2 separate regions of the Homo sapiens genome follow, and region 2 is reported to be linked to region 1. Evidence: microRNA targets listed by miRTarBase, many of them from high-throughput screens and not tested one by one. Region 1 holds a microRNA gene; the other region holds the end of a gene's coding sequence.
What was found. Region 1 holds the annotated microRNA hsa-miR-186-3p (GCCCAAAGGUGAAUUUUUUGGG, at 1,585-1,606, shown strand). A microRNA usually pairs through its seed, bases 2 to 8, with sites in the 3' UTR of a target mRNA and lowers its output. Matches are read on the target gene's strand: a 7mer-m8 pairs with bases 2 to 8, a 7mer-A1 pairs with bases 2 to 7 and ends in A, and an 8mer does both.

Region 2: the mRNA of PRIM1 is a reported target of hsa-miR-186-3p. The part of its 3' UTR that is shown has no 7-base or 8-base seed match.

What each region holds. Positions count from the first base shown.
Region 1 is chr1:71,064,850-71,069,247 of GRCh38, reverse strand. It overlaps MIR186 (microRNA 186), which reads left to right and starts at 1,532; the gene lies at 1,532-1,617. ZRANB2 (zinc finger RANBP2-type containing 2) reads left to right here. Exons shown (of 10, transcript NM_203350.3): 9 at 2,314-2,472; 10 at 4,111-4,398. The coding sequence ends at 4,174. It overlaps ZRANB2-AS1 (ZRANB2 antisense RNA 1), which reads right to left. Exons shown (of 3, transcript NR_038420.1): 3 at 2,064-2,482. RefSeq lists a silencer at 696-745.
Region 2 is chr12:56,728,149-56,732,546 of GRCh38, forward strand. PRIM1 (DNA primase subunit 1) reads right to left here. Exons shown (of 13, transcript NM_000946.3): 13 at 3,432-3,586. The coding sequence ends at 3,567. Among named protein-coding and RNA genes, the nearest start is that of NACA, 5.0 kb to the left of the region's middle.

The DNA of each region.
Region 1 (4,398 bases):
CAGAGAGAAAAATATTTAAAGGCTGCAGAAGGTGTTGCTGCTTTTTTTCCCCTTATTTTGCTTCTACTTGTCGATTTTATTTTAGCATTAGAAAACTAATGCACTTGCCTCAGCTTAATTTTCTCACCATGAAATGTTTCCATTGCCAGCAGTGTGCCAAGACATTCCCATGATTGAAATCAGGTGGCTATTTTGCAATATGCAGCGTTTATTATTTTGGCACTAAGATGTTATGAAGTAGGAAGATGAAGCCAAGTCTTATCGCCACATCTCTAGTATATTAAGATTATATATGGCCAGGCACAGTGATTCATGCCTATAATCCCAGCACTTTGGGAAGCTGAGGTGGGAGGATCACTTGAGGCCAGGAGTTCAAGGTTGTAGTGAACCTTGATCACAGCACTGTAATCCAGCCTGGGTGACAGAGGAGTGTCTCAAAAAAAAAAAAAATTAATAGTAGTTCAAATAAAATTACATATGTAAATAAAAAGAAAAATTTTCTTCATTATTAAAAGGAAGAAAAATAACCCTGCCTCAAAACAGGTCCTGTTTTGCACGGCAGTTGTTTCAATATTTTCAGAAACAAATTTGCCATTTATATCAGATAAAGTTACTAGAGTACTGTATATACATTTTCCTTTCTAATTTTACACACGCTATTATTTATAGAGCACAAAACACTCAAAACTAAATCAGGAAGTATAGTCGGTTAGTTGAGATAGGATGTGGTCTTAAGTAGTAAACAGTGTTCTAAAGTTTCAGGTTGCATGTAGTCACATCTGTAGAGGGAAACATAATTTGAAAGATGCTCTTGCAGGAAATTTTTCTTTGTTTAGTCAAAATATGCTCTCTTTGTTTTTAAGTTAATTTATTATGACCTAAAGGCATCTAAAAAATAAATAAGAAAATGAAATTCCATATTTGTGGAAATTCATATTGAAGTCTAACTGTGGCTGTTTTGGTAAAAGTATTTGCTGCTTTGAATCAAATTTAGCATTAAAGGGCTGCCACAGTATAATCATGTTAAGGAGAAAAGAATGTTGTGCACACTTGCATTATAAGCCAATAAGAAATAGATAACAAGGCCAGGCTCAGTGGCTCACGCCTGTAATCCCAATACCTTGGGAGGCCAAGGTGGGCGGGCTGCTTGAGCCCAGGAGTTCAAGACCAGCCTGGGCAATATAGTGAGACCTCGTCTACTAAAAATAAAAATTAAAACAACCAGCCAGGCATGGTGGTGTGTTCTTATAGGCTGAGGTGGAAGGATCACTGGAGCCCTGGAGATTAAGGGTGCAGTGAGCCATGCTTATGCTACTGCACCACAGCCTGGGGAACAGAGCAAGATCCTGTCTCAAAAAAAAAAAAAAAAATAGAAGTAGAGAGCAAATTATTTTTTATTGTTACCATTATTTAGTAACAATATTTAAGCGCTTTATAGGTAAAAATCCTTAAGTTCTGGTATTCCCTTTGGGAACCATTATAATTAAGGTTTACAGAACACCCATCATATTCTTCCCAAACATTTTTTCATTGCTTGTAACTTTCCAAAGAATTCTCCTTTTGGGCTTTCTGGTTTTATTTTAAGCCCAAAGGTGAATTTTTTGGGAAGTTTGAGCTAAATTCCTTCAACCAAAATATACAAGTGAAGAAAAAAAATTTGTATTTAAACATTTGCACATTTACTTCTACCTGAAGCATGTGAATGTCAACACTTCATATTTCATAAGTAGTGGGTTTTCATAAAAATAGTATTGTAAATATAAATCATCTTAAAGTTAGTTTTTATTTCTTCTTGAATATTTAGCAGTTAAGTACAGTTACTAGTCTTTTGTTGCTGTGCCATATACCTGGTTTTTCCATAACAGTTTAATGAGTTGAATAATTCCACATGGAATTATGTTTATTTTCCTCAGGAAGTGGTATATAAGATACATATTTTAATCCTCAAATGGAAGGATGTAGTTCCTAAACGTAAAGTCCTGTTAATGCAGTTATCTGCTGATTTTATAATACTATAATATTTGTGTATACTTTGAAAAGCCTTAAAAAAAGTTTAAATTCTATTTTGATATAGTAAGCAGGGTTTTAATTACACATGATAGAATTTTAAAGAGACAAAATTAAAATGTTTAAGTAGAATGTTTTCATGGTTGATCCAGAAGTCTTCTGTTGAATAAGCAGTAAGTATTCTTCCTTATAAAATTTTCATAGTTGTTATAAATCCTGTTTATTTTTGGAGCTATCTGATAACTAAATAATCTTCCTTATTTCTTCTTTTAATGAAATGTTTGATTTGTTTCTCAATCAATGAAGATCCAGCTCCAGGTCCCACAGGGGCTCTTCTTCCCCACGAAAAAGATCTTATTCAAGTTCATCATCTTCTCCTGAGAGGAACAGAAAGAGAAGTCGTTCTAGATCTTCTTCATCTGGTGATCGCAAAAAAAGACGAACAAGATCACGGTCACCCGAAAGGTTTGGGTTTCTGTAGAAATAAGAATGGGTGTTCTTAAGTGTGTTTAATAGATAAAGTAAACTTTCCTAGTCAAGGGTTAGATTTTTATTATCTCTTGTGTTCCGACTTTCTACTTTTCAACTTTGAACTTCAAAAAAACATTACTTTGCTTATCCTTTGTACTTTGATCAGGTTGTTTAGAATTGTAGATCAAACCATTCTTTGATCATTTTATTGTTTAAATTTTTAGTTCCATTTATAATTTTTATAGCCAACTCTCGGTTATTTCTGTCTTTTGAGATTGCAATTCAGAAGCTGTATGTCGAAGTAATTTATGAGTTGACTTTTATACTTAGGCTTCTTTAAATACTAATAGTCAAGAATTCTAGAGCATCTAATAAAAAATTAACTTTCAGATCATTGGGAATCTGTCCTCATTTAAATATGTGTAAATGCATTTCCACAGCAAATTGCTTCATGCCCTTTGTCTATAAGGAAATTATTCCTTGTAGCTAATACATTTTTCATTTTGCAGTCCAAATCTTTTTTGAGAAAGGCCTATATTAGGTTACTTTATCTGTACTGACACTTTTAATATTGGAAGAATGCAACTGTCATCTGTCAGCCTTTTCTGCAACAGGCTAATTACTCAGTTTCATTAATTTTCTCTTTGTTCCCAATTATATAGTCATTTTAATGGCTTTATTTGTAGTCTTTGCAAATTTTTCATATTTTATTAGCTTGTGAAAATAAAGATTATGTAAAGTCTATTAATTGCTGGGTTCAGTGGTAGGATTATCTCATGATTCCTACTTGTACAGAATGATTAGTTTTGCTTCTTCACATTTTGGAGTTTAGATGTTAAGATTTCACACAGTCTTGTTTCTCTGCATTTGTTTCTTTGTAAAAAAAATTACTCTGTTTTTGAGTGGAATTCATTCTGTTGCTTTCTTACCACTTCTGCAAATTTTTATCTTAGCCACATATAATCCCCCTAGTTTGTTGTCATCTAAACTTAATGAACATGTTCTCTATTCCATAAGCCAGGTGATTGGTGAAAACACTAAACAACCCTGAGCCCAGGGCCAACCCCTACGGAACACCACTACTTTACCCAGGTTGATATTGACTTATTCATACTAGCTGCATGAATATAACCCTATAGCAAATTGTACAATCATCTTGTGTGACCTAGATTTCCAAAACTTATTTATGAGTATATTTTCTCATACACAGAAGCCTTGCTGTATCTTTTTTACATAATAGACTTCTTACACTTTCTACACCGTGTCACAGGGATTGGTTTAGTCACACTTCCATTACCAAGTTTATATGCTTTTGTTGTACATTTTCTGTAATTTTACACATTTTTGCAAGGCTTTTCTTTGATATCTTAAATAATTGAGAGGTGGCTATATTTTGAAATGAGATTCTTTTGAAATTGTAGAGAATTTTTTATTGTATTTATATGATAACTGGGCTCATATCCAAAGTCTAAACATCAGATAATTTTATGTGTGTAAGTTCCTATCTCAATTTTTAATTTTTTTGCTAGCATCATGGTACTGAATTTTGTATACTTTCACAGTCTTAAGAATGAATGCTGAGATTTAGCTCTAGCTTACTAGAATGCCTACTCTCTCCATTATGTCTTACAGACGCCACAGGTCATCATCTGGATCATCCCATTCTGGTTCCCGTTCAAGTTCAAAAAAGAAATAATGTATTAAAATTTACATCTTAAAAAAATCCAGTACAGTGCATGAAGCATATTTTTAAAGAAGTTGGTGTCTTACTTGGTCAGAAGTGCTAAATCTGCTAGTAGAGGTGCATGCCTTTCATTGCTTTTCAAAACAATACAGCTGTGTTTATTTGTGAAGTTAAAAGTAAATAGCATTTTAAGCCATAATGTCCCAAAATAGATGTTCTGTCATTCATTATTTACA
Region 2 (4,398 bases), not on the chromosome of region 1:
AAAGTACATATTCACAATTTTTCTTTCTTCCCCAGCAAGCCCACTTACTTTTTCCTCTCTCTGTAGTAATGACTAGCCAAGGAAGGATGTATTTTTTTTTCCTTTTTTTTTTTTGAGACAGGGTCTGGCTCTGTTGCCCAGGCTAGAGTACAGTGGGGTGATTATGGCTCACTGCAGCCTCCGCCTCCTGGGCATAAACGATTCTCCCACCTCAGCCTCCCGAGTAGCTGGAACTACAGGCACACAACACCACACCCAGTTAATTTTTGTATTTTTTGTAGAGACGGGGTTTTGCCATGTTGCCCAGGCTGGTCTTGAACTCCTGGCCTCAAGTGATCTGCCCACTCTGCCTCCTAAAATGCTGGGATTACAGGTGTGAGCCACCACACCCGGCTAGCGTGTTTCTTAAGTTGGCAATTTTGAAGATAGAAGCCATTTCTTTGCCCCTTTGTTTCTACAGTTCTAATATGTGACTGAATTGGCAAATCAAGAAAAGGGGAAGTCAGTAGTCCTTGGGTATATTTTTGCTGTCTTTAAGAACTAAACATTGGCTGGGCGCCGTGGCTCACACCTGTAATCTCAGCAGTTTGGGAGGCCAAGGCAGGTGAACTGCTTAACTCAGGAATTAGAGACCAGCCTGGGTAAGATGGCAAGACCCCGTCTCCACAACAAAATAAAACGTAAGCCTGGCAAGGTGGCGCATATCTGTAGTCCCAGCTACTCCAGAAGCTGAGGCACGAGGATCCCTTGAGCCCAGGAGTTAAGGCACTTCAATGCTAGACATATTTATAAAATGATAATGAAAGCTGAAAATGTCTCTTTTTGAGGCCGGGCGTGGTGGCTCACGCCTGTAATCCCAGCACTTTGGGAGGCCGAGGCGGGTGGATCACGAGGTCAGGAGATCGAGACCATCCTGGCTAACACGGTGAAACCCCATCTCTACTAAAAATACAAAAAATTAGCTGGGCATGATGGCACGCACCTGTAATCCCAGCTACTCACGAGGCTGAGACAGGAGAATGGCGCGAACCTGGGAGGTGGAGTTTGTAGTGAGCCGAGATGGCGCCACTGCACTCTAGCCTGGGCCACAGAGTGAGACTCCGTCTCAAAAAAAAAAAAAAAAAAAAAAGTCTCTTTTTAAAAGCATACCAGTCTTTCCACTCTCCTTCTGAGTTCTTTACTGATTAGTTCTGGAATAATGAGTCTCTAGTAATTTTGTATTCAGGAGTTTTAATCGACCCACTGTTTCTAGAACCTGAAGACTTAATAACCTATAGTACACATAAGCTCAAATAATGAAGAGTTTTTGGGCCAGGTGAGGTGGCTCACACCTGGGAGGCCAAGGCAGGTGGATTGCCCAAGCTCAGGAGTTCGACACCAGCCTGGGCAACATGGTGAAAACCTGTCTCTACTAAAAATACAAAAAATCAGCTGGGCGTGGCGGCGTGCACCTGCAGTCCCAGCTACTCGGGAAGCTGAGGCAGGAGAATCGCTTGAACCTGGGAGGTGGAGGTTGCAGGGAGGCGGATTGCTCCACTGCACTCCAGCCTAGATGACAGAGTGAGACTCTGGCTCAAAAACAAACAAATAAACAAACGAAAAAACCAAACAACGAGGAATTTTCCTTTTTTTGAGACGGAGTTTCACTCTTATTGCCCAGGCTGGAGTGCAATGGTGCAATCTCGGCTCACTGCAACCTCTGCCTCCCGGGTTCAAGTGGCTGGGATTATAGGCGTGCATCACCAGGTCTGTATTTTTAGTAGAGACAGAGTTTCACCATGCTGGTCAGGCTGGTCTGAAATTCCTGACCTCAAGTGATCTACCTGCCTCGGCCTCCCAAAGTGCTGGGATTATAGGTGTGAGCCACTGCACCCAGCAGGAATTTTCTTAAAATATAGGTCAAGGAATCAATGTGTTGACTGCATTATAGAGTCTGTTTCATATAAACCAGAAGATAAGAAAAGATTGATTGTAGAGGAAACAATGTTAAAGGAAATGCAAAGGAAGGAAAATTTTCATTGTCATTAAAAGCACCAGCCTGACAGCTTGCTTCTCAATGTTTCTCGGAAGACAGAATATAAACTAGAATGACTGTTTTGTTTAGATTAGTTGTAAAACAGGGCAAGAGAAATCGGACATATTAGAACCCATCTCACAAAATCAAACTTTAAAAACTGAAGTACCTAGATACATAAAAAGTCCCAAGTATTTTCACAAGTTTAATACGTTTTATTTATTTTATAATTTTTATTTATGTTGCCCAGGATGGAGTGCAGTGGCGTGATCTCAGCTCACTGTAACCTCCACCTCATGGGTTCAGGTGATTCTCTTGCCTCAGCCTTCTTAGTAGCTGGGATTACAGGTGCCCGCCACCACACCTGGCTAATTTTCTTGTATTTTTAGTGGAGACCGGGTTTCACCATGTTGGCCAGGCTGGCCTTGAACTCCTGGCCTCAGTCGGGTGTGGTGGCTCACACCTGTAATCCCAGCACTTTGGGAGGCTGAGACAGGCAGATCACAAGGTCAGGAGATCGAGACCATCCTGGCTAACATAGTGAAACCCCGTCTCTACTAAAAATACAAAAAAAATTAGCTGGGCGTGGTGGCGGGCACCTGTAGTCTCAGCTATTTGGGAGGCTGAGGCAGGAGAATGGCATGAGCCTGGCAGGCAGAGCTTGCAGTGAGCTAAGATCGTGCCACTGCACTCCAGCCTGGGTGACAGAGCAAGACTCTGTCTCAAAAAAAAAAAAAAAAAAAAAAGAACTCCTGGCCTCAGGTGATCTGCCTGTCTTGGCCTCCCAAAGTGTTGGGATTACAGGTATGAGCCACTGTGCCTGGCCCTCTAGATATAATTAAATGTCTAAAACTTAAGGACAAAACCATCATTCACCCAAACATATGACGTATCAAGTGAGCTGAGATGACAGTCCTATTACTGCTCACTTACCTCTATATATGGCAACTAGTAGAACTGGGTATTTATATCAGAAGCCTTAGAATTATCCTTGTAGAATATTGAATTTTACAAAATTATCTGCAATCCACTTATGCCTCCTTTTATTTCTCCTTCCAGGAACCTTGACACTCTCCTTGGTCGTCTCAGGAAATCTTACTTTTTTTTTTGTTTTGTTTCTTTTTTGAGATGGAGTCTCGCTCTGTCGCCCAGTGGCTGTGATCTCAGCTCACTGCAACCTCTGCCTCCTGGGTTCAAGCAATTCTCCTGCCTCAGCCTCCCAAGTAGCTAGGATTACTGTATGCACCACCACACCCGACTGATTTTTGTAGTTTTAGTAGAGACGGGGGTTTCACCATGTTGGCCAGGCTAGTCTCGAACTACTGACCTCAGGTGATCCGCCTGCCTCGGCCTCCCAAAGTGCTGGGATTACGGGTGTGAGCCACTGCACTTGGCCAGGAAATCTTTTCAACATAAATTATTTCTCAAGGAAAATTTACTTTGAGGTTTAAGACACATATATAGTTCTGCCATATTTATTAAATGGCTCTTGAAGTATTTGATCTGTGGTTGAAGGCAGAAGATATCCACAATGGTTTGAGGAGCTCTGTCTTCAGAAATCTTTTTGTAAATCTAAAATAGAATAGATAATATATGGAAGAACAGCAAAGGAAACAAAACAAAGCCCATTTACTTTTACATTCTTTTTTGCCTAATGCTTCTATTTAACACACATCATGCACAAAGATTTGCTTACACATTTGCTGAAGTCCACATCATAGGCTGAGCTAGTATGGAACAGTGAGGATACAAAGGACTTAATACGGCCAGTTGCAATGGCAGCTTCAACCAGGCTTTCCAAGCTCAGAGTTGTTGTTCATCCAATAATCACACATATGAGTGTCTACTGAGTAGAGCATTATCTTAGGCACTACTGCTTAAACTATCACATATTTAAATAAAAAATGAAGTGGCAAGATAATTTGTATTGCTATAACATTGTCACAGTTTTCTAGAGTAGCCTTCATCTCTTGAATAATATTCAATCTGCTGATTTTTTTCATATTGGCTTATACATATGCTCATATGTCTCCCATTTAGAGTACCCTTCATTTGACACTGCTATCCTCTTTGTGTTTCTTTCCAGTTATTATATGCAGCAGGATTTTATTAGTTTCCTACTGTACCTGACACTTGATAATCTTGCACTTTTCTTTCCCCTGGCTTCTATAACATTTTCCCTTCCATCTTTCATCTCTTCACTTCTAAATCATTAGCAAGTCTCAAGGATGGTTCCAGTATTTGCACCTTTCGGAGATCTCCAGTGCTACTGTTCTAGTGGCAATAGCGCAGTTGGCCTCTTGGGCTCTATTCTAGTCCCTGTCTTGCCCAGATTTATCTTTCTAGATAAAAACTACAAATCATGGCATTCCCTTCCTCAGAAC